Linked DNA regions of Homo sapiens. The protein of the gene in region 3 interacts with the protein of the main gene of each other region in a pairwise test. Each region holds a gene or a part of one and is shown on either strand. Other genes may lie near its edges.

Region 1 (3,500 bases), on a different chromosome or scaffold from region 3:
CTTTTACATTTCCAAATATATTTTCAAATCAGCATGTTGATTTCTATCAAAAAAGTCTGACATGGTTTTAACTGGATATTCATTTTATTAAATCTATAAATCAGTGGTTCACAAAATATGGGCTATGAACCATCAGCATCAGCATCATCCAGCAACATGTTATAAATGCAAATATTCAGGCCCTACCTCAAAACTAATGGATCAAAAACTCTAAGCTTGGGGTCCAGCAATCTGTGTTTTAACAAGTCTTTCAGGTGATGCAGATGCAAAATAAAAGCATAAGAACTACTGTGGATCAGTTTGGGAAGAATGAATACATTAGCAATATTGTACATTCCAATCCATGAACAGATACTTCTCCCCATTTATTTAGGTCTTATTTAATGTATCTTACCAACATTTTGTAGTTTTGAGTACACAGATCTTGCACATGTTTTGCTCACTAAATTCCACAGTATTCTATGTTTTCTAATACTGTTGTAAATGACATTCTAATGGCTGCTGGCTAACCTTTAGCAATAATATATAGGAGATATGAAAGAAAGTTTATTTGGAGTTGGGTATTCACTAAAAGATCTGGAAAAAAAATCTAGTTTCTGGATCCAGTTGTCAACTTGGAAGGAAAACAGTGGACAGAGGAACATGATGAAGTGCACCAGGAACATAAGATCAGCAAAATCTAGACTGTGGCAAATTCTGTAGGCCAACTGGGCTGGGTATTTTAACACATAAATTTCTAAGGAAGTAAAAGAAATGGAAGAGGATAGACTGAAAGATTTAAAACAAATACGAAGTTTTTACGAAATGGACAAGTCTAAACTATAATGTACATTTAGGTGAAAAAACTATTTAAAATGAGAGGAAATGATTACTATAAAAGTTGGCTTAAGGTTTTCTTTTGTCAAGAGAGAGAAGGTTGTGATTAGGATGGGATATATGGGGCTGAAGTAGATGGCAAAGTTGTGTTTCTTGACCTGGGTGGAATTTGCCTTATAATTTCACAGCTTAATAACTAAATAAGCTATTTTTTTGTTACGGTTTATAAATATATGTTTTACTTTACATTAAGAAAAATTTTTTCCTCTTAATATGATGTATCTAGAATTTGGATTTGAAGAGTGTAAAAGTTACAGTGGTAAGAACTGTGTTTGATAAAAACTAAAGTGTGCCTAATGAAGTGGTTGTTCACTTGAGGCAGGGATACTAGTATGGATGAAGTCAAAGAACTGGAAAGCTAAAATTTGGGAAAGCATTGAAAGGAGAAGACCATATTCCAGGTTCTAATCTCGACCATCAGTAAGGTAGACTGGCTTGGATGTTGGCAAACATAAAAATGATGGTCAGGTACAGAGAAATACACATGGATTACAAAGGTCCTCCACTCTCTTGGGTCCACAAACAAAGACTATTTGGGGAAGCAAGAAGCAGTTGAACTCACTTTCTTTATGTGGGGCGTGGGAAAGCGAGCACAACTTACTTCAAGGAAAAAAAGGAACTCACTATCTTGCAGGCACAGACGGATTTCAGTTGAGGTTCTGTGGTAGAGAAAGTTTCCAGGAAAATATTAATGGTGAATGGTAATTTGCTAACAAAGAAACAGAAATTCCTGAAACACAATGGAAAGGGCCAAGAGGAAGGAAAAGAGTGTGTGTGTGTGTGTGTGTGTGTATTAGGGAGGGTACGAAGCAGCATAAAGAACAATGTGATTGATAGTACACTTAAAGGGAGGCAACAAAAGAGGGCTCATTTTGGATAATCAAAATTAACAAGAGTGAGCTCAGGGATGGAAGGACTTGGTGTGTTCTGGCTAGAGATTGTTTGAGGTGCTGAAATTACCTAAAATTTACAGAAGTTGTGCCTGAGGCCCAACTATTGCAATTGCCTCCATTAATCACTTTGCATATTAATGTTTCTATGAATAAGGCTTTCAAAGTTCTGAGGATGGATGAAGCAAATGATAACAGTAGCTCTTATTATGACCAAGAGAAGGAGAATCAGAAGGCTCTTCAATCCATCCTTCACTGTAAACTACTGGGCATACTTCTGAATCCTGGATCATATTGCCTTTTATTTTTTCCCCCCAAAACAGCTTTTATTCCAAATTTTATCAATGTTGGAAAGAAGGGTCTGCGAAAAGTAGGCCAAGGCAGAAGCAACATACAAAGCTAGAAATGGGTCAAGAGATGTACTCAGTCAGACCCTGGCCGAATGAACATTAATGGGTTCAGTATATGACAAATGTATGGAGCAAATAAACATAAGCATGCCAGTTGAGGTATCATCATTATCCTGCTCTAGAGCACTCCACTTCCCAACAAATGGGGATTGAGTACCGGAGCCCATTTATGTTGTCATCAGGGCTTGTAGTAGTGACAGAATAGGCAACAGAAGAGAGGAGGGAAGTCCTAAATAGTAGAAGAAAGGGAATGCCTCTAGACAAAAAGTAAACAAGGCAGTACACTAATGCATTTAGAGACTCTCCTTTTATGAAATTACTTCTTATAAAATAACTTTAGAGGTCTTTACATATTTTTAAAATTAAAATTATAATTTTTATAAAATAATCTATATAAAAATTATATTGTAAAACATATATACCATAGCATTTCTATGTTTTTTTATTGTTTATCACTGACTACAAATTTTTTAGTTTTAAATAAAAAGTCAACTAATAATTACTGTTATAAAATAATTGCTAATTCTGTATTTTAAAGTTTCTTTGGATACTTGATGGATTTAAATACATAATATTAAGGGAAACATAAGAGCATGATTTGGACAAGACAAAGAGATTCAGTGTTTCTCAAACTTTTCCACAAAAGCTTGAGTATTGGCACAGAGAACCCCCAGGGCCCAGGGGAAATAACCTGGTGCAAACTGCTCCAAGTTCAGACTTTCTACAGAGTGTTTTAATTTTGTTTTAAATTTTTATTATTTCACTTTAAAATTTATACAAATTTTGTTATATTCCATAATATGAGCATTTATTTTATCATATATTATTTTATTAATAATATAGGTTTATATATTAATTTATTATAAAATGTTTTAAGTTATTTTCTGTGATGGAATAAAATCAACACTTTGAGAAAATACATCATAGTTTTTCTGAAGCTTCGTATATCCTTGGGAATATATACTCCTAAATGATATCCTCCTTGTGTAGTCTTACCTCCATAGTAGGTGGAGTCTTTCTTGTTCTTCTAATCCAAGCTAGAAAGAAAAATAATATTTAAATGTCAGTTTCCCATAATTTACACAAACATTTTTATCCATAAAACAAATTTTTTTGAGTACCTACTCCATATTATTTTAGGTACTGGAGATACAGCAGGGAATAAAACAGATTAAGTCCCTTCTCTACTGTAGCACATGTACTACTGAAGGGGTTGCAGAAAATAAACACACAAACATATGGTTGGTGGTGATATGTGTCATGAAGAGAATATAATAGTGTAGAGAAGATAAAGAGGGGACAGTTTCATATGTTTAAAATCATA
Region 2 (2,314 bases), on a different chromosome or scaffold from region 3:
TGACCTCTTTGGGCTCAAGCAATCCTTCCACCTCAGCCTCCTATGTAGCTGGGACCTGAGGCATGTGCCACTACACCCAGCTAATTTTTTGATTTTTTTTGTGGAGACAGGGTTTTGCCATGTTGCCCCAGGCTGGTCTCTAACTCCTGGGCTCAAGTGATCCTCCCACCTCAGCTGCTTAAAGTGCTGATATTACAGGCCTGAGCCATCATGCCCATCACCAATTATCACATTTTTAGAAATTTTGCATCCTAGTTACTAAACCAGTGGTAGATTGAAATTGACCATGAGGGAGCATGAGCATTTACATTGAGCTGGCAAATGCTGTATGTCAGGATTCCTCCTCCAGAGTCTGCTATTAAACATGTACCAGCCACCATTATATATATGCTAGATACACTGCAGTTATTAAGAATTATATATATGTACACGTATATATACTATTGATACAGTGTAATTGTTAAACATTTAAAAAAATGAAATACAACTTTCAGGGCACATTTCAGCCAAATTCATATTTATTCCAGTCTCTAACACTCTGTTGTTATGTCTGCTGTAAGATGATCAGGAGTTAGTATGAAGTATTCTTCTCTACGCACCAAAGAAAACAAACAAAGCAAACTTCAAGTCAGTGAATTAGTTACCACAGTTAAAATGCATTTGATTTTGTCCTTTTCCTTTTTCACAAGAACGACAGCTGAATACTCTTTCATGTGATGCCTGATATTTTTCTTTTTCTTTTTCTCTCTTTTTTGAGACAGGGTCTTTAAGATGGGGTCTCGCTCTGTTGCCCAGGTTGGAGTGCAGTGGTGCAATCTTGGCTCATTGCAACCTCAGCCTCCTGTTTTCAAGTGATTCTTCTGACTCAGCCTCCCAGGTAGCTGGGATTACAGGCATGTGCCACCGTGCCCGGCTAATTTTTGTATTTTTAGTAGAGATGGGGGTTTCACCATGTTGGCCAGGATGGTCTCGAACTCCTGACCTGAAGTGATCCACCCGCCTCGGCCTCCCAAAGTGCTGGGATTACCGGTGTGAGCCACTGTGCCAGGCTCTGATGTTGATATTTTTCTGTTACAGTCCTTAGCCCAGGCATCCTGTAGCACTCTGTGTCCCAGACTTTTTGATGCAGAAACAAGACTGAAGGAAGATTGTCCAATATAGGAAAGATTCAACTTTTCCTCTATGTGTTTGTCCGCTGGTATTCCTATGAGGCATTTGAGTTACAGGTAGCAGCACATCAGCAAATGACTCCGCTCCCTCTCTCAGCACACATAGCCTAATTGTTACAGAACCCCGAAGGGACACCTGAATGTCCTTTCTTTCAAGGCAATATGTATGACACGCTTTCAAATCTCCTCCTGCCTACTCTGCTTACCTAAAGGGCAAGGGGAGAAAATCCAGCACTGACATAGAGTCTGTAGGTTGAATAAGGCAGCCAAGATTAGAGAGATGTAAGTGAAGAAACCCACTTTATCTGGCTTTGGAGAGAGCTAGTGACTTAAGGCAGGATGTTCATCTGTATCATGTTGACTGGGACAGTCCTGGTTGTTCCCAGTGCAGCTCCATTATCATCCATCTGGCAGTGGGGAGTCTCTGCTGCCCATGTGGTGCTGGCATATGCAGTTCTGCTCATGCTCCTAACGTGAATGCATAAAACACCCCTGCAGTGCCACAGCACTGCTATGAGTTCATGGAAGGCGTAGGTGAGGATACAAGGCAAGAGTGCTCTGGCACCAACACTTGGAGGGGCCACCTGAGCATAAGTTTTCTTAGAGGCTCAGAATTCAAATTGCTAATAGGCTCTTGGAGCAAAATTGCAAAGGACAGATAGGCTTGTTGGTGGCTTCTGTTTTCTTCGCTAACAATCCAGGTTAGTTCTGATTTCCTTCCTGGTCACTTAAAACACCTTAGTAAGTGTGTTAATTGACTTTTAGAGTTGCAAAGGGCTTTTTATTCCATTCAACCCCTGTTCAATTTACAGGTGAGGAAACTGAAATAAGGTACTTAAGTGACTTGCCTAAAGTCACGCAGCTGGCGAGAGGTAGGAGCAGGCTTTCTGACACACTCATCTGGCATTCTTGAGGCTATCCCTACAAATCCTCTTGACCTCTGGTAGAAATTCCACCTCCACCAAATATCTTTCTAAATACATTCATAGCTGGGTGGCTGGATATGGACTCTGAAGCAGAAGATGCTTCATGAAATATTTTTGGTTTATCTAATAACTTTGGTCCAAATACGTATACAGAACTATATACTGAGGTAGCATTACTGAATTTGCCATACGAAACATCTTCACTTTCATCCATCAGGT
Region 3 (3,500 bases):
GCATTTTCCCAAAGAACTCTTTGTCATCCTCCAGTTACCTGTGCCCTCTTTGCCCCCCTAAGTTTCCATGGTAACTCTTATTAAATCTTTTTTTTTTTTGAGATGGAGTCTCGCGCCCAGGCTAGAGTGCGGTGACGTGATCTTGGCTCACTGCAGCCTCCGCCTCCTGGGTTCAAGCAATTCTCCTGCTTTAGCCTCCCAAGTAGCGGGGATTACAGGTGCCCACCACTATGCCCGGCTAATTTTTGTATTTTTAGTAGAGACAGGGTTTCACCATGTTGGCCAGGCTGGTCTCGAACTCCTGACCTCAAGTGATTTGCCCTCCTGGGCCTCCCAAAGTGCTGGGATTACAGGCGTGAGCCACCGCGCCCGGCCTTGAATCATTATTTAGGTACTCAGTTACTGTCTGTCTCTCCTGGACACATGAACATCTACACCAGGGACTGTGGGTTCTCGTTCACCGCCATATCCCCCGTACCTAGAACAGAGCCTGGCACAGGAAAGAGGCACACACACACGCGCACGTGTGTGCATGTGTGTGTGTGTGTATAAAACAAATGAGTAAATGTATTGAATTTTTGGAAGGGATAAGAAGAGTCAAGAGAGGCATAGAAGGAGTGGTCAGCAGAGAGGGAGAAGCTGAGAAAATGTGGCAAGAAGGCCAATGAGTAAGAAAATTCAAAAAGTGGCCAATGCCAACCCACAATACTACAGAGACAAGATAGAAGAATGCTCTTCCACAGAAGAGCTGCAGAGACCTTTCATAGTACAGTTTTAGCGCATGGTGGGTGGGTCTAGTGGAACTATTATTAATACAGTGGTGGCTAAGCTGCTAATTTTTCTACCACAGATGCTGTGAATTAGACAAACTGTGCCCCAGGAAAGGCATGACAGGGCACACATTATCTATAAAAAATGAAAATGGGCCAGGCGCTGTGGCTCACGCCTGTAATCCCAGCACTTTGGGAGGCCAAGGCGGGCGGATCATCTGAGGTCAGGAGTTTGAGACCAGCCTGGCCAACACAGAGAAACCACGTCTCTACTAAAAATACAAAAATTAACCGGGCATGGTGGTGCACGCTTGTAGTCCCAGCTACTTGGGAGGCTGAGGCAGGAGAATCACTTGAACTCGGGAGGCGGAGGTTGTGGTGAACTGAGATTGTGCCACTGCACTCCAGCCTGGGCAACAGAGCAAGACTCCATCTCAAAATAAATAAATAAATAAATAAATAAATATATAAATAAATAAATAAATAAATAAATAAATGAAAATGAACTTGAGTGATGGACATCTTGGACAGTAAGCTGATAAGATGTGATAAACTGGGTTCTTGTCCCAAGATGAAAAGGAGGATTTTAGGAGCCATGACAAATAAGGCTTTTATATTTTAAACCCTTTCAGAGCAAACAGGGGGAGACTTTAAACAGGCTTAAGTAAACTGGTATATACTGAGGGTCAACTGAGGAGGTCGTTTTAAGATGGCAGGTGACAGCGATAAGCAAAAGCCAACTGCTGTCTTTTGGATTCTTTGGGTCAAAGAGAAGGTGTTTATCTACCTTAGCACGGCAATCCTTTTTCTTTAAGAAGTTTGGCTTTCTTCGAATGTGATCCCAGCTCTGGCACCTTTCTGAATGGAGTTTCTCTCCTCTGAAGGATGTTTCGGAATGAGTAAGCAGGGATCTTTTTGAAGCCAGGGAAAGCTGAGCCACACCGTTCATGAAACAGTCATGCGTGCCAGGTTTGGCACTAAGTGCTATGGGTGTATTACTTGGTTTAATTCTGCACAGTAAGTAACCCTCATCTCTGTTTTATATCTGAGGAAGCTGGGGTTCTGGAAGGTGAACTCTCCTACCTAAGGCCCTCTGGCGGGTAAGAGGAAGAACTAGAATTGGAATCCAGGTGGGTAGGACCCCTCTGCCCACACGCTCACCCTTGTCTACACCAGTGGAGCTTGAGTGGAGGCATCCTGATTCGAGACAGTGTGGGGGTCCCTCGGGGAGAGAGGCTCAGACTCACTGGGGTTGAAACACCGGGATCAAGAGTTTCTTCTCTTTTCATCCTCTTCTCTTTCTCCCTCCCTCCTTCCCTTCCTTAACGTTTTATGATGGAAAATTTTAAACATATACAAAAGCAGACCGAAGGGCACGCAGAACAGTGATGAGCCCATCCGTCAGCTTTCGCAAGGATCCATTCATGGCCTGTCTGGCTTTATGCAAACCCTCACCTGCTCCCTGTCTCCTGCATATTATTTTGAAACAAATTCCAGACATAGGTCATCTACAAATATTTCAGTAAGTATCACTAAAAGGCACCATTAAAAAGACACACACACTCCCCCACTACCCACATAACCACAGAGGGTCTGACGGTTCCTAAAGGCAGAGGCAGGGAAGAGCTGGCAACTCTTCTGATGTAGGAAGGTGGCTCCAGTTTCAGGGGCGCAGCCGACCCCCCTGCCGGAGGGACATGGGACCTCACATCGTACTCGGTCACGTGTGAAAAGCAGAACTTCCTTCTTCTGCCTCAGAATAGTTCTTAAACCTCAGGGGGGTCTACTCATCCATTCCCCCAGCTAAGGAAATGTTTGACATTTCAGAACAAGGAAAGACAGTTGAACTTCTGGGAGGCTGCCAACTTCTTAAACAATGAATGCTCTCTGCCCCCAACCCTAGCACAGAACACCTGCTGCGGCTCCTGACTTCGGGATCGTTTCTCTGCGCTTCACTCAGCTCCTGCCCTGGGCCCGCTGGCACCTGGCGAGGCAGATTTTCCCTTCCAATACTCAAGAGTCCCTTTCAGGGGCAGGCATGGGATGCCAGGGTTACAAGAGTGGAAAAAAATGTCCATTTCCTTTGGTCAGTTTACCAGATGAGTATTACTCAACCACTTACAATATTTACAAGTCCAGCTCATGGCAATTAAAAAAAGATGTAAGAAAACAAACTCCTTTTCAAACTGGGAGAGGATATTAAACACAGTCTCTCAGGAATGGTGTTTTCTGAAGACTCGTCATCTGGAGTCATGGTCCATACTTTTTTCCAGTGAAACACTGGAAACGAGCAAAATACGGAGCTTGTGCTGCCAACGCCCCTGCCACAAGTTGGGTGTAGGTAACAGCTCTCAGTGCTTACTGACATGGAGGAGGAGGGGAAGGAGGAGAAAGAATCTGGAGGCTGACTTTTCGAGAGAGTGTGGATCTCTGTGTTGGCCACTTCTGCCCTGTAGCTGCAGGGGAACGTGGCAAGTAGGCTGATGGGAAAGCAAGAGGCAGGGAGGGGTGAAGGGCGCTTTATCCAGGAGTCTTTTTATCTGGTTTTGTTGCAAGGAAAGCCGCCTTAGCTGCCTACTACTATTTTGGTTGTCTTGAACCAAAACACATATTCTGGCCAGGCGTGGTGACTTATGCCTGTAACCCCAGCACTTTGGGAGGCCAAGGCGAGTGGATCACCTGAGGTCAGGAGATTGAGACCAGCCTGGCCAGCATGGCCAAACCCCGTCT
Region 4 (4,043 bases), on a different chromosome or scaffold from region 3:
TCATTCAGATGTTGTTTTGTAAGTGTTTACATTTATTTCAAGCAGTACTCTCCCCAAATGAACCATAAGCATCTTGGCAGTGGATTTCTATTCATTTTGTATATTCCCCTAGGACCTGTTGTGGTGTTCTAGCATCTACGTGATACCTAACTCTACAAATTACTACTGATTTAAAAAAATAATTCAGACATCTACATGCCTACTAGATGACGCACCAGGTTTTCCACAAAACTTCCTATACATCTAGCCCTAGCACCCAAAACACCTGGACCCTGAGGAAACTGTGACCACGAGTTGTTTTTGAAGAGCAAAACTTCTGAGATTAAAATTCCCTAATCTTACACAGCTTGCTCTAAAAAAGTATTCCAAAACATTCTTAGAAACTTTTGCCCCAAATATTAGCCACAAAATTGTCATACTTTCATAACTCCTTTGTGTATCCATCCATCACACACATACCCTTGTACACAGCTAACACATTACATTCAATTACCCCATTGTAGAAGAGGAATAATTTATTTCTATATGATTTTAATAATGTTCCCTAAGTAATTAGTAATCAAGATTTTCTTCAAATTCAAATTAACAAATATGTTTGTTAATCTAAATAATATACATATTTATGTATTTATATATGTATATATTTTAATCTTTCTGTAATTCAGTCTTTAACTGTGAACTTTTACATGATGGAAGCAGTGAAGGACTCAATGTCATAGTACATTTTGATAGTATTTGATAGGCTTTTTCAGGTCAATTAATTTAGTTGCTTGCAAATATAAATCAAGCTTGCTCCAGTTCCACAAGGACTCCACCACAGTCTTTAGGATGGAGAAAAATCACTGGTTTTCCATGTGCTCCTATTTTGACCTCTTCACTTAGACTGCGGATCTTCTTTTTTTTCAAATCCATCACAGCTGCATTAATATTATCCACCTTAAGAAAGGGAAATAAATTGAACACATTTGAGATCATAAAAATACCAACTTATAGTATCATAAGACTTAGAAAAAACTTTGAGAGCTCATGCAGTCTATCTCCTCTGCCTGTGGGCAGGACCATTCTTAAATCATCATAAAAAATAAGCTTAAAATTTTCAGAGAAGTAAGAGAAGTTACTAAATTTTTCTAGGTAAGCAACCACAATGCTCAGAATTTTCACCATTAGTAAATGTTTCTTCTTATAATCTAAATCATGTATGATATACTTTATAATAGTTTATTCTGGCAGTACTATTAGTGAGATTGAAGACATTGCTTTTTCCTGAGAACCCTGGGTCCTCATCTATAACAGGCAAATGAGGTCTACCACATAAATTGACTACAGATTAAAATGAGGTAACAGATAAAAAGCTTTCAGTACAGTTTATGGCATAATAGGTACTTAGCAAATATGAGTGTTTCCCTGATCCCCAAAACTTGCCCTGCCAAAACACCTGGTTATTACCTTTGACATTATCAAGACACACATGAAAATCACTATTAAATTGCCATCAAAATGTTATTCCCCACCCAAAAAAATTTCAAACTTTAATGTTTTTGCAGCCTCTTCTAAGTTATTTCTATTTTCTTCATACTTATGGACACTCTAGGAGGAGCAGATGTGTCTCTCTATACTTGACGGAGAAATGATCTGCCTCTATCTTGGAAAGTCACCCACTTAGACTGGGAACCTAAGAAATGGATGAAAAGGTATGATATGAATGGCCACATTCCTAGGCAGTCATAAATCACTAGTTTAATTAAAATCACTAGTTTAATTAAAAAAAACACACAAAAGCACAGAGACTAGTTTAACACCCATGTACCTACCATTCAGATCTAATAAATATTAGTATTTATACAATTTTATTTCCAAAGAGCCAAGGATTATATGCTGAATTCTAAAACCAGTCAAACAGCTAATGAGGATACTAAATGTTACATAAATAAGCTATGATTTCTTCATATGGCACATATTCTACTTGTATTCCTGATATTTCTTTTTTAAACCTCATAGATATGTCAAAGTCACACGTGCCTAGATTCTGAACACAGCTCATTTCATGACATCTTGCACTGTAGCTGGTTAATTCTCATCTTTTTCAGAATAGAACATGCACTAGAAGCTCGTGGCAGGAACGGCTCGACCCACTTAGTGAGGAAAATTGGTCCTCACTGATGTCAGACATTGTCAATTTTATCTTATTTTTAAATTCATATCAATATTATTAAGCTTTTCTTCTGCTGCGTTAGGTGGGATTGGAGCAGCTTTTAGTCTAGGACTAATTTTCCTCACTACCAAGCCAAAGCCCTTCTGAGTACTCTTCCCAATGTTACGGAAATTACTATGACTAGTAAGAAAAAACTATCCCCACCTCTGTGTGTGGATTATTCCCTCTAATCCTTTCAAGGGGTTCTATTCTAGCTTCCTAACATGCGTGCAATACTCGAAGCTCCGATGAAGACATGAAAGGTACTACAGATCTTTAGAGTTCACTCTCTGTGCAGCTCTCCTTTCCAGGAGAGAGCTGTGAACTCTAGCACCATGGCCTCCTCAGACTTCCAACTCCTATCTCCGCAACTCAGGGAGACCACTAAGTTCCACGTGGATTCCCCCTTCCTGCACTGCAGTCTGGAAACTCTCTACAGCCAGTAAACTGGGTAATTGTAGGGCTCATCTTGTTTGTTTACCCTCTCTCAGAAATCAATTCCTGTGCTGCCTGATGTCCAATGCCAGAAATCCATTATGTCATGTATTTTGTCTAGGTTGCTTGTTTGTTTCAGGGAGGATAAACTGATCTCTTTTACACCAACTTGGCCGGAATCAGATTTCTAAATTGGCAGGTTTTTTCTGTCAGCAACTAAAAAGTGTCATTACATGTCATTCTATAATATGTCTTTTTTACTTTGATTGCTTTTAAGATTTTCTTGTCATCTTTGATTTTCAGTTTGACTATGGTGTGCTTAGGTGTGGTTTTCTTTCTTTTGAGACAGAGTCTCACTCTGTCACCCAGGCTGGAGTGTAGTAGTGCGATCTCAGCTCACTGCAACCCCTGCCTCCAGGGTTCAAGCAATTCTCCTGCCTCAGCCTCCAGAGTAGCTGGGACTACAGGCACACGCCACCATGCCCAGCTAATTTTTATATTTTTAGTAGAGAAGGGGTTTCACCATGTTGGCCAGGATGGTCTCGATCTCTTGACCTTGTGATGTGCCCGCCTCTGACTCCCAAAGTGCTGGGATTACAGGCGTGAGCCACTGCACCTGCCTTTTTTTTTTTTTTTTTTTTGAGACAGAGTCTCACTCTGTCACCTAGGCTGGAGTGCAATGGCATGATCTTGGCTTACTGCAGCCTCTGCCTCCTGGGTTCAAGCGATTCTCCTGCCTCAGCCTCCTGAGTAGCTAGGATTATAGGCATGTGCCACCATGCCTGGCTAATTTTTGTATTTTTAGTAGAGACTGGGTTTCACCATGTTGGCCAGGCTGGTCTCGAACTCCTGAACTCAAGTGATCTGCCCGACTTGGCCTCCCACAATGCTGGGATTACAGGCGTGAGCCACTGTTGCCCGGCCTGGTGTAGTTTTCTGTTTGCCCTACTTGGGGTTGCTGACTTTCTTGAAACCATAGAGTGATGTTTTACATCAGATTGGTAGTGTCCTTGTCAACTATTTTTTCAATTACTGCTTCTGTTCTATTTTCTCTCTCTTCCTTTTCTGGGACTCCAACTATATTCTGCTAGAACTTTTGACCATGTCCTACATCTGTCTTATGCTCTATTCTGTTTTCTTTTTCTTCCATATTTTTTACCTCTTGATTTTGGAATTCTAGTTTCTAGAACTGTGAAAAGAATAATTTCTGTTTTAAGCCACTAAGTTTGTGATCATTTATTATAGCAGCCCTAGAAGACAAATATAACTACCACACATCATACCGAAATTGAACAACGAAGTAGATGGATGGCTGATAGTGGGAGCTAAGTTTCTCACTGTTGGAATGAGAAGATAAAGGCTAGTGTGGTCTATGTGGTAATGGATTAGAGCTGGAGACGTCAGTATGCTCTGAGGA
Region 5 (3,074 bases), on a different chromosome or scaffold from region 3:
AGGCTCCTGCTTGGGGCTGGTGGCTCCTGGGAGGCCCCCTTCTCTTCAGGGACTTTTTTGTTTCACGTCCTTGTGTCCAGGCCCGGAGGAGGAGAGGGAGGGAAGGACCAAAGGGAGGTCAGGTCAAGCCCGGGGAAAGTGCCCCCTGTTGTCTTCCTCCAGCAGGACTGAGGCCCAGGGAAGAATAGTCAGCGGGGTCTGGGGTGTTGAGGGACAGTACCCCGCAAGATGCCATTAGCTGCGGTTTGGGGGCTGTCGGGCGACTGTGTGTGTGTTGGGAGCAACCACAGAAAAGGCTGATGGCCGGGAGCAGGGGTCGCTGACATGGAACTGCCTGAGACTTCTGGCTGGATTGTTTCCCCTCCCTCAAGTCCTCCTTCCAGGCCTGACGGACTCAGCAGGGTTTTTAAGGACAAAGCTGTCGGCGGCTCCCCACCTGTCTGACTGGCTGGTTCCTCTGTCTGCCCTGGGCTCTTTCACTGCTCTGGTGGGCCTGCGTGTTCCTGGACCCTCACGTGGGGCCTGCGCCCGGGGCCGCCTCTGGCGGGGTGCTGCTGGGGCTTTCTCCTTCAGAGGCAGGAGGTGTGGCTGGGTCCTCAAGGGCCCCTGGGGTAGGATGCGAGGATGGGGTTGGGGAAGCTTCATCACAGGGACTGGGCACAGAACTGGCAGCAGGTGCAGGGGTCTGGACGTTAGTGTCTGCCTGTGGCTGGGCCACAGAATCTGACTGTGGCTGGGCCATGAGGTTCAGCTGTGGCTGGGCTGTGGGATCCGACTGTGGCTGGGCCGTAGGGTTCAGCTGTGGCTGAGCTGTGGGATCCGATCGTGGCTGGAGTGTGGGGTTCACCTGAGGCTGGGCCACAGGATCCATCTGTGACTGGGCCTCTGCCATCGGCTCTGGCAGAGTTGGACCCTCAGAATCTAGCTGGGTCTGTGGCTCAGTGGGCGTGAAGCTGCCCGGCCGCTCCTCGCAGAGAGCTGCCGCGAAGGACGAGAGCACGGAGCGCAGCAGGGTCCGGAGGTCGGCACTGGCCATGAGGCAGAGGAAGGGGCTGAGGCAGCTGTTGAGTAGGATCAGGTAGTCGGAGTAGACCAGGGCCTCCCAGAGCAGGTAGCCAGAGTAGACGTCCCACAGGAAGGCCAGGTAGAGCAGCTGGGCCAGCTGGTAGGGCAGCCTCAGGACCACATAGGCTGACAGAATGGTCCTGGCCACACGGGCGAAGCCCCGGCAGGCTGCGGGCTGCTGTTGGCGGTGGCAGGTGCGACAGGCTGTGGCCTGGGTGAGCACGTGGCAGACGAGCAGCAGGAGGAAAGGCAGGAAGCCCCCCAGGACCTCCAGCATCCTCAGCGACAGCTCCTCGCTGTCCCAGAAGTCCAGGCAGATGACCAGGTCGTACCACCAGACGGCAGCCTCGGGGAAGACCAGCCAGGGCACGCTGAAGAGTGTGGCCAGCACCCAGACACCGGCGCAGACCCAGAGGGGCAGGCGGACTGGGCGGTGCCCAGGGTACCAGTGTGGGCACAGCGCCAGCAGGCAGCGGTCGAGGCTGAGGGCGGCCAGCAGGAAGAGGCCGGAGGAGTAGGACACGCCCCATAGGAAGTAGTAGAAGCGGCAGGCAGCTGTCCCCAGCGGCCAGTGTCCCCCATGCCGGATCTCTAGGATCTGGAAGGCCGCTGCTGCCAGGAACAAGAAGTCAGAGAGGGCCAGGCTGAGCAGGAGCAGCGCCAGACGCGTGCCAGCTCCATGCCGGGCCTGGGAGCCGGCCAGCCACGCCATCAACCCATTGGCTGGCAGCCCAAGGAGCAGCAGGGCCACCAGGAAGACCGTGTCCCAGCCACCTTGGGGGTAGGAGTCCTCATCATCAAGCTCTGTGCGGGGCCTGTGGCCAGTGGCACCCAGGTCAGCTTCCATGGTAGTGTCCATTTGGGGTCCCCAGAGTCCTGCTGGACACGGAGTGGGTGCCTGGTGAATCAATGATGGTGTGAATGACCGAGTATGGGAGAGACGGTGCTGTGCATCTCCAGGCAAGTCACCATCCCTCCCTGCGCCATTGTCATCACCTTTTGAGTAATTATCCTATGCCAAGGACTTGAAGTGGATGACCTCATGGAGTCCTCATACAATCTACTTTACAGGCGAGGACAGGAAGGTTCAGAGAATCAGTGAAGGTAGGAAGGGAGGTGCCAGGGCTCAACCCAGACTTTTCTTTTCTTTTCTTTTTTTTTTTTTGAGAGACAGGGCCTTGCTCTATTGCCCAGGATGAGTGCAGTGGCACAGTCCCTGCAGCTTCCACCTCCTGGGTTCCAGCGACCCTCCCATCTCAGCCTCCCTAGTAGCTGGGACTACAGGTGTGCACCCACTACTTTTTAAATTTTTAGTAGAAACAAGGTCTCACTGTGTTGCCCAGGCTGGTCTTGAACTCGTGAGCTCAAGTGATCCTCCTACCTTGGCCTCCTGAAATGTTGAGATTACAGGCATGAGACACTGTCCAGACAGACTTAATCTTCTGCCATGTAGAATCCCAATGGGTCCGGATAGACTAACCCGGAGGCTTTCAAACATTGTTAAAGGTATGGAATTTTGTCTGTAAGTAAAGTATTCTAAGGCCGGGCACGGTGGCTCACACCTGTAATCCCAGCACTTTGGGAGGATCACCTGAGGTTGGGAGTTCGAGACCAGCCTGACCAACATGGAGAAACCCCATCTCTACTAAAAATACAAAATTGGCTGGCCGTGGTGGCGCATGCCTGTAATCCCAGCTACTCAGGAGAATCGCTTGAACCCGGGAGGCAGAGGTTGTGGTGAGCCAAGATCGTGCCATCGCACTCCAGCCTGAGTAACAAGAGCAAAACTCTGTCTCAAAAAAAAAAAAAAAAAAAGTATTCTAGTGGAACTCCTATATGGACTAAAAGGGGGTGCTCAAATTAAGGGAGGGAAGAGTACCCCTACCCCCCAGGGTTCCAGGGAACACAGTTTGAAGACCGTTTGGTCCGCTCATCACAAGGCCCCTTTATGCCTGCTCCTCTGGGGTTCGAGTGTTTAGGATTCCAAGAAGGGAGGGCTCTGGTTCCCA
Region 6 (3,500 bases), on a different chromosome or scaffold from region 3:
GGCTTTGTGCTTTTAGCTGTTCCATGCAAGGAACCAATCAACCTGTGTGTTACTTTATGACCAGACCTCAGTATTTGTGCCAGAACCTCAATGGTCTCCTCTGTTTTCTTCCACATTTGGTCTCAGATTGATAGTGGTCACAATAAGGAAACAACCTGTATTTATTTTAGAAGGTAAAGTTTAAAAAAATTGATATATTAACTAAATCAAGTAACTTGACATCAGATAATGTGTTTTCTCATTATTTCTGGTTTTTTTTGTACTGCTCATCTTCTATTCATTATTCCTTCTCTAGATAAAATCTGTCAGTGATAAGAGTTTCAGATTGTACATTTCTAGATAATTTATTTCACTTCCATTTATTTTATGCCCAAAAGGTTATGAGATAATATTAATTTATGGTGAGTAGCTTGAACTTTGACTAGTTCCCTGAACCTTGTTGAAGGCATATGAACACAAAGTACACCCGTTTAGCCCATTATTTGGGGGAAAAAAATGTGTGCCCAAGTGTTTGGATGTTTTATTGTGTATTTCCAAGTAATCAAAAAAAAAGTTAACAAAGAAAAAAACGAAGATTTTCTGTGGTCAGGAATTTTGAAACTGCTTCTATCGATATGACTATCTTAAAAAATAAGATTTCATAATAATCCTAATCTCTAGTTCTGTTGGAGCCTTATTTGCTCATGTCTCCCTTTTTTCCTTTTTGGTTCTCTATCTTTGTGTTATTTGTTGAATGTCAAGCTTGCTTTACTAAGCCCAGTCTATATTACTTCATAGATCAGATGGGAATGTCCATCCAGTTTCCCAGAGTTGCCTTAATACTGTGTGTGTAATGAGATTTGCATTTGTATACCTCAATTTCTCATGGCCCTGCAGTAAAATCATAGCTTGATATACTGACCAGATTTCTGGCCAGTAATGACTGTTGTATTGTATTGTATTACAACAATGACTGTGGTACTGTATACCTAAAGCTCTGTCATGATTAAATACTCTGTAATAGACATGGTGCTAGGTGATTGGAGAATAGAAGCACAAAAATGCTTTACTTTAAAAACTGTTCTTTCTTTTTAAATTATTTTTAATTTTTTTATTTCAATAGGTTTTTGGGGAACAGGTGGTAGTTGATTACATTAATAAGTTCTTTAGTGGTGATTTCTGAGATTTTCGTGCATCCATCACCTGAGCAGTGTACACTGTACCCAATGTGTAGTCTTTTATCCCTCGTCCCCCTCCCATCCTTCCTCCCGAGTCCCCAAAGTCCATTGTATTATTCTTATGGCTTTGTGTCTTATAGCTTAGCTCCCACATACGAGTGAGAAAATACGATGCTTAGTTTTCCATTCCTGAGTTACTTCACTTAGAATATTGGTCTGCAATTCCATCCAGGTTGCTGTGAATGCCATTATTTTTTCCTTTTTATGGCTGAATAGTATTCCATGGTATATATATTTTCTTTTCTTTTTTTTTTTTTTGAGACCGAGTCTCGCTCTGTCACCCAGGCTGGAGTGCAGTGGCGTGATCTCGGCTCACTGCAACCTTCGCCCTCCGGGTTCACACCATTCTCCTGCCTCAGCCTCCCAAGTAGCTGGGACTACAGGCACCCGCCACTACACCGGCTAATTTTTTTTTGTATTTTTAGTAGAGACGGGGTTTCACTGTGTTAGCCAGGATGGTCTCGATCTCCTGACCTCGTGATCCGCCCGTCTTGGCCTCCCAAAGTGCTGGGATTACAGGTGTGAGCCACCATGCCCAGCTGATATATACATTTTCTTTATCCACTCATTGATTGATGGGCTTGGGCTGGTTCCACATTTTTACAATTGCGAAATGTGCTGCTATAAACATGAGTGTGCAAGTATCTTTTTCATATAATGACTTCTTTTCCTCTGGGTAGATAACTAGTAGTGGGATTGCTGGATCAAATGGTAGATCCACTTTTAGTTCTTTAAGGAATCTCCACACTGTTTTCCATAGTGGTTGTGCTAGTTTACATTCCCACCAACAGTGTAAAAGTGGAGAACTGTTCTTTCTAAAATTCTAACATACCTCTTAATTACAACTTTTGAAAAAGTGTTGATAAAATTATCCCAGAGTGAGGCTTGAGTTGAGCCAAATTCTTTCCCTTCTTAATTCTTTCCTCTTTGTTTTAGTACTATTATCTGCAGTTGCTTCAAAGAGCAACAACTTCATAGCATTTTGAAATCAAATGAAGGACATTTCTCTGCAGAGGTTATTTGTTATGTGAAAGTCTTCAGTATGTCTGTGGGATGTACAGTTAATTACTTGTTGGTGATTTCCTTGAGCATTAAAGTGATTTCTCATTTTTTTCCTTAGTACAAAATACCTCTTCATTTATCACAAAAATCTATACATTGAGATTGTCCAATAACTACATTGAATACTCTGAGCTAAATTTAGGCCATGAGCAAATATAAATTTAAAATAGTATTTGTCAATTAGAAGACATTCCGAGTATGCGTGTGTACGTGTGTGTGTGTGTGTGTGTGTGTGTGTGTGAATCTGTGTCTGTGTGTGAGCTACAGCTGTTGATATTTTGCTTTTTATCACCAGGTTCCAGTACAATGGTCAGATATGGTCACTTTGAAAGCCAGGATGACAAATTATGGATTACCTAGATATCGGTGGCTTACTCATGCTTGGAATTTTTTTCAGAGAGAGGTAAGTGCTACAATTTCTGAGGTAGAGAGAGTGAAGTAAGTGGTGCACCTTCAAACCAGATGTTTAAAGCTTTAGCTTTGGTAATTTCCTCTGTGCTGAAAAATTAAGCCTGTGATTCAGTAACCTCTGGTGCAATTATTTCTTGAAAAATATCTTAGGTAACTTCATGGCCTGCTTTTCTTCCCATGTATACCATTTCCCCTTTATTTCACATGGTTCACATATATTTAAGAACATCTGAAAAGCCATTTTGCTAAATTATTGTGAAGTTTTCTTTTTATGAGAGTTAACTTGATAAATATCCAAGTTCCAGACAAATAGATTTTTTCATGACTTTTAGAGCTCTCAATATTTTAAACATAATTTTAGTTTTAAAAAAAATGATTGTTCTCATTTGGGACTTTGAAGTCAGTATATCATTAATGGCATGATCTGTTCAGAAAGACCTTGGTTAAAATCATAGCTGTGCTGCTTGCTATTAAGTGAGCTTCTATAATTTACATAACTCCCTTAAGTCCTGGTTTTCTCACCTTTAAAATAGTGATAATAAAAATACCTCTCTCTTCAGGTTGTTAAGAAGATTAAATGATGCGATTTCATTTAGCCTATGGTTATTAACAATAACATTACAAAGTATAGGTGCGTTTAGCATTTCTTACCTAACCGCCATGTAGCACTGCACCCAACCATCTTCTCAAGTGGGGACTGTATTCAGATGTTTAAAATTTGGTGACTTGGAGTTAACCATTGATCTTGCTTCAAACCAAGCTCTTCTTCCAAGCAGTTTCCTTGTGATTGAAGTGACATTCCCAGATGGA
Region 7 (2,585 bases), on a different chromosome or scaffold from region 3:
GACCAGCCTCGCCAACATGGTGAAGCCTCGTCTCTACTAAAAATAGAAAAATTAGCCAGGTGTGGTGGCAGGCACCTGTAATCCCAGTTACTTGGGAGGCTGAGGCAGAAGAATTGCTTGAACCTGGGAGGTGGAAGTTGCGGTGAGCCGAGATCGTGCCACTGCACTCCAACCTGGGTGGCAGAGTGAGACTCCATCTCAAAAAAATAAAAGATTAAATTAGATTATCTCTGAGGTCTCATCTAACTTATATTTTTTTCACGGTTCTCATTTCTTCATATATCTTTGAAGGGTTTACACTGAGAATTAAGATTGCACATGCCTGCATTTAACCAATATTATAAAACCTCACTGATAATGAATTTTCCTTAACAGAGGCTTAATAAAAGTAAGTAACTGTATGTACCACAAGGAGATCCAAGATGCATTATTGTCACACAATGCTTAATACATACTAAACTGTTTGAAATTTTTTTAAGGTAAATGAAAGACACTATAAGTACATCAGACTTGTTTATTCCTTAGAAAAAGAAGTGTGTTAGACAATGAAACTGTTGGCTTTTATGTATTTCATAAATAAAAGCACAACTATCTATAGAAATGCTTCTGTTTAGAGAAGTCAGTAGTAAAATGTTATACTTTCAACTCAAATTACATAATATAAAAATATAAAGCTCATCTATATTACCAGAAGATAATACCCTCAAACAAACCCATTTAAAAACAGGATGTCCCTAAGTTTTTCAGAAACTTTTATGGATACAATCTTATACTTGTGCTTATGTTCTCTGATAATAATTCTTTTTTTAAAAAAAAAAAGTCCTCAAAGGTAATATTTTTACTTTTTGGAATTTCTGATAAATAAATCATAATGTGATATTCACAGACTTTGTGAGAAAATTACAATATTTATTTACACATTTACATATAGCACAATGTATTGGTCAAGTACTAGTAACAGGCAATTAACAAACTAATAAGAAAATCAGCATTTTAACAATTTAAACGCTTCATGACAGGGTAATTCATGTCCAACATATCAAAAACATATTTATAGATAACTTTAGAAAGAAAATACATACTTTTTTTGATAATCACAAGTAGCAATGAGATTTTCTATATTATTTTCAGTCTCACTTTAGAAATGTTTTAATTGTCTAAATTTAATCAATTCATCGATTAAAGGAAAGACAATAAAATAGTAAAATTACATGTGTTTATATATAAGTGTGTGTGTTTCAAATAACAAAACGCAGGTTGTAAACTAAAATCACTGGAAGGCAAATTGAAGACAAAAGTGATGCTGGTTTAAGTTGTTTGGTTCTTCACATAAATTCCAGTTTCCAAGTTGTGTTTTACAACTCTAGTAATATCCAGATAGATAATTCAACCTGCAACTTTTTTCTTCTATTCCTGTTTTTCTCTTGTTCACACTGTAATTTTTGTCTTTTTACTGATACTGATTAAATAAAATAGGACTTCCAGTCTTAATACGTCTCCCAGGAGAAGTGAAATGAGTTTAACTAGGTATTGAGTATCATTTTCCATTTTACTTTTCTATATTTATCTGATCTAAAAACACTCCAACCATGTAGTTTTTCTTCCATCCTTTTAAGTCACTTACTTTCAGTAAAAAGGGTAAACGGAACACTGAAAGAACCGGGCCAAAATCAAGGTGAAACATACCCCTAGAAATACAGTTATCATAATTTTGGATTTTAGAATGGCCAAACCTATTAATTTACTAAAACTAATCATGAATTCAAAAATCAGCATTGTTTTAAAGAGGTTTTTATTGGAGGTCAGGGCATGATCTACTGCAAAAAGTATACTTTACTCAATACCATATTAGCTCAAAAGAATACCAGAACTTCATGTGGCCAAAGCAGCTGAAATGTCATTACCTTCTTGATTTGGGCAGTTTGGACTAAGAAAGGGGATGCTACTGGAATTTCCACACTGGTCATCTACCTTTGGGGAAACAGCTTGTTCTTGACACTTTCTGTTCTCTTTAGCAAATTCTAATGTCACACTCTCCTCCGCAGGCTGAAATGGCCTCTCTAAACGAACCACTGGTCTCCTTGATTCTACTTCTTGTTCGTGTAGCAATCTCTCGACCTCCACCTCAAGCTCCAAAGTCTCTTCATCGGCTTCTACATCTAGTTGTTGCATCAACTCCTCCAACTTCTTGGCCTTTCGGAGCTCATTTTGCTGTATGATCGTACAAAGGTGTTCAGTGAGTTGCTCTTTTATCTCAGTCTTGCGCTGTATATCTAGCTTTGCTGCAATGTACTCTGCTTCAGCCCTGTCAAACCGCTTCCTGTAAGGATGTGTATAAAGATAGGTCCATCAGTTTTCCATTGAAGAAGATATTCAAAAGAGGATCTAGAAACAATAACTCAACTCCAAAATTGGGAAAAAATATATAATGAAGATACGGATATTACTACTTTACAAACACTTGTCTACATGTTGGCCAGACTAGGCTATGGCTGCTGAAACTTTCACAGTATCCTTACTTGAATTCACCTAATGAAAACATGTTATTCTGCACGAATGTTTTCTTTACAAAGCTGTTTTTGAGT

The links.
Region 1: the proteins of STX8 (region 3) and NDUFAF2 interact in binary tests that used the Homo sapiens proteins (3 or more experiments, as listed by UniProt).
Region 2: the proteins of STX8 (region 3) and GPX8 interact in binary tests that used the Homo sapiens proteins (3 or more experiments, as listed by UniProt).
Region 4: the proteins of STX8 (region 3) and MCEE interact in binary tests that used the Homo sapiens proteins (3 or more experiments, as listed by UniProt).
Region 5: the proteins of STX8 (region 3) and GPR152 interact in binary tests that used the Homo sapiens proteins (3 or more experiments, as listed by UniProt).
Region 6: the proteins of STX8 (region 3) and TSPAN12 interact in binary tests that used the Homo sapiens proteins (3 or more experiments, as listed by UniProt).
Region 7: the proteins of STX8 (region 3) and GORAB interact in binary tests that used the Homo sapiens proteins (3 or more experiments, as listed by UniProt).

What each region holds. Positions count from the first base shown.
Region 1 is NC_000005.10:61,098,705-61,102,204, reverse strand, and holds part of NDUFAF2 (NADH dehydrogenase [ubiquinone] 1 alpha subcomplex assembly factor 2), read right to left. Parts: intron 3,214-3,500; coding exon 3,173-3,213; intron 1-3,172. UniProt on the Homo sapiens protein: Acts as a molecular chaperone for mitochondrial complex I assembly. Complex I functions in the transfer of electrons from NADH to the respiratory chain. The immediate electron acceptor for the enzyme is believed to be ubiquinone.
Region 2 is NC_000005.10:55,165,484-55,167,797, reverse strand, and holds the end of GPX8 (probable glutathione peroxidase 8), read right to left. Parts: 3' UTR 501-2,314; downstream 1-500.
Region 3 is NC_000017.11:9,254,321-9,257,820, forward strand, and holds part of STX8 (syntaxin-8), read right to left. Parts: intron 1-3,500. UniProt on the Homo sapiens protein: Vesicle trafficking protein that functions in the early secretory pathway, possibly by mediating retrograde transport from cis-Golgi membranes to the ER.
Region 4 is NC_000002.12:71,109,187-71,113,229, forward strand, and holds the end of MCEE (methylmalonyl-CoA epimerase, mitochondrial precursor), read right to left. Parts: intron 1,673-4,043; coding exon of another isoform or gene 1,652-1,672; exon of another isoform or gene 1,577-1,651; intron 937-1,576; coding exon 784-936; 3' UTR 501-783; downstream 1-500. UniProt on the Homo sapiens protein: Methylmalonyl-CoA epimerase involved in propionyl-CoA metabolism.
Region 5 is NC_000011.10:67,450,801-67,453,874, forward strand, and holds GPR152 (probable G-protein coupled receptor 152), read right to left. Parts: upstream 1,930-3,074; 5' UTR 1,925-1,929; coding exon 512-1,924; 3' UTR 501-511; downstream 1-500. UniProt on the Homo sapiens protein: Orphan receptor.
Region 6 is NC_000007.14:120,809,645-120,813,144, reverse strand, and holds part of TSPAN12 (tetraspanin-12), read left to right. Parts: intron 1-2,574; coding exon 2,575-2,682; intron 2,683-3,500. UniProt on the Homo sapiens protein: Regulator of cell surface receptor signal transduction. Plays a central role in retinal vascularization by regulating norrin (NDP) signal transduction.
Region 7 is NC_000001.11:170,551,750-170,554,334, reverse strand, and holds the end of GORAB (RAB6-interacting golgin), read right to left. Parts: intron 2,321-2,585; coding exon 1,873-2,320; 3' UTR 501-1,872; downstream 1-500.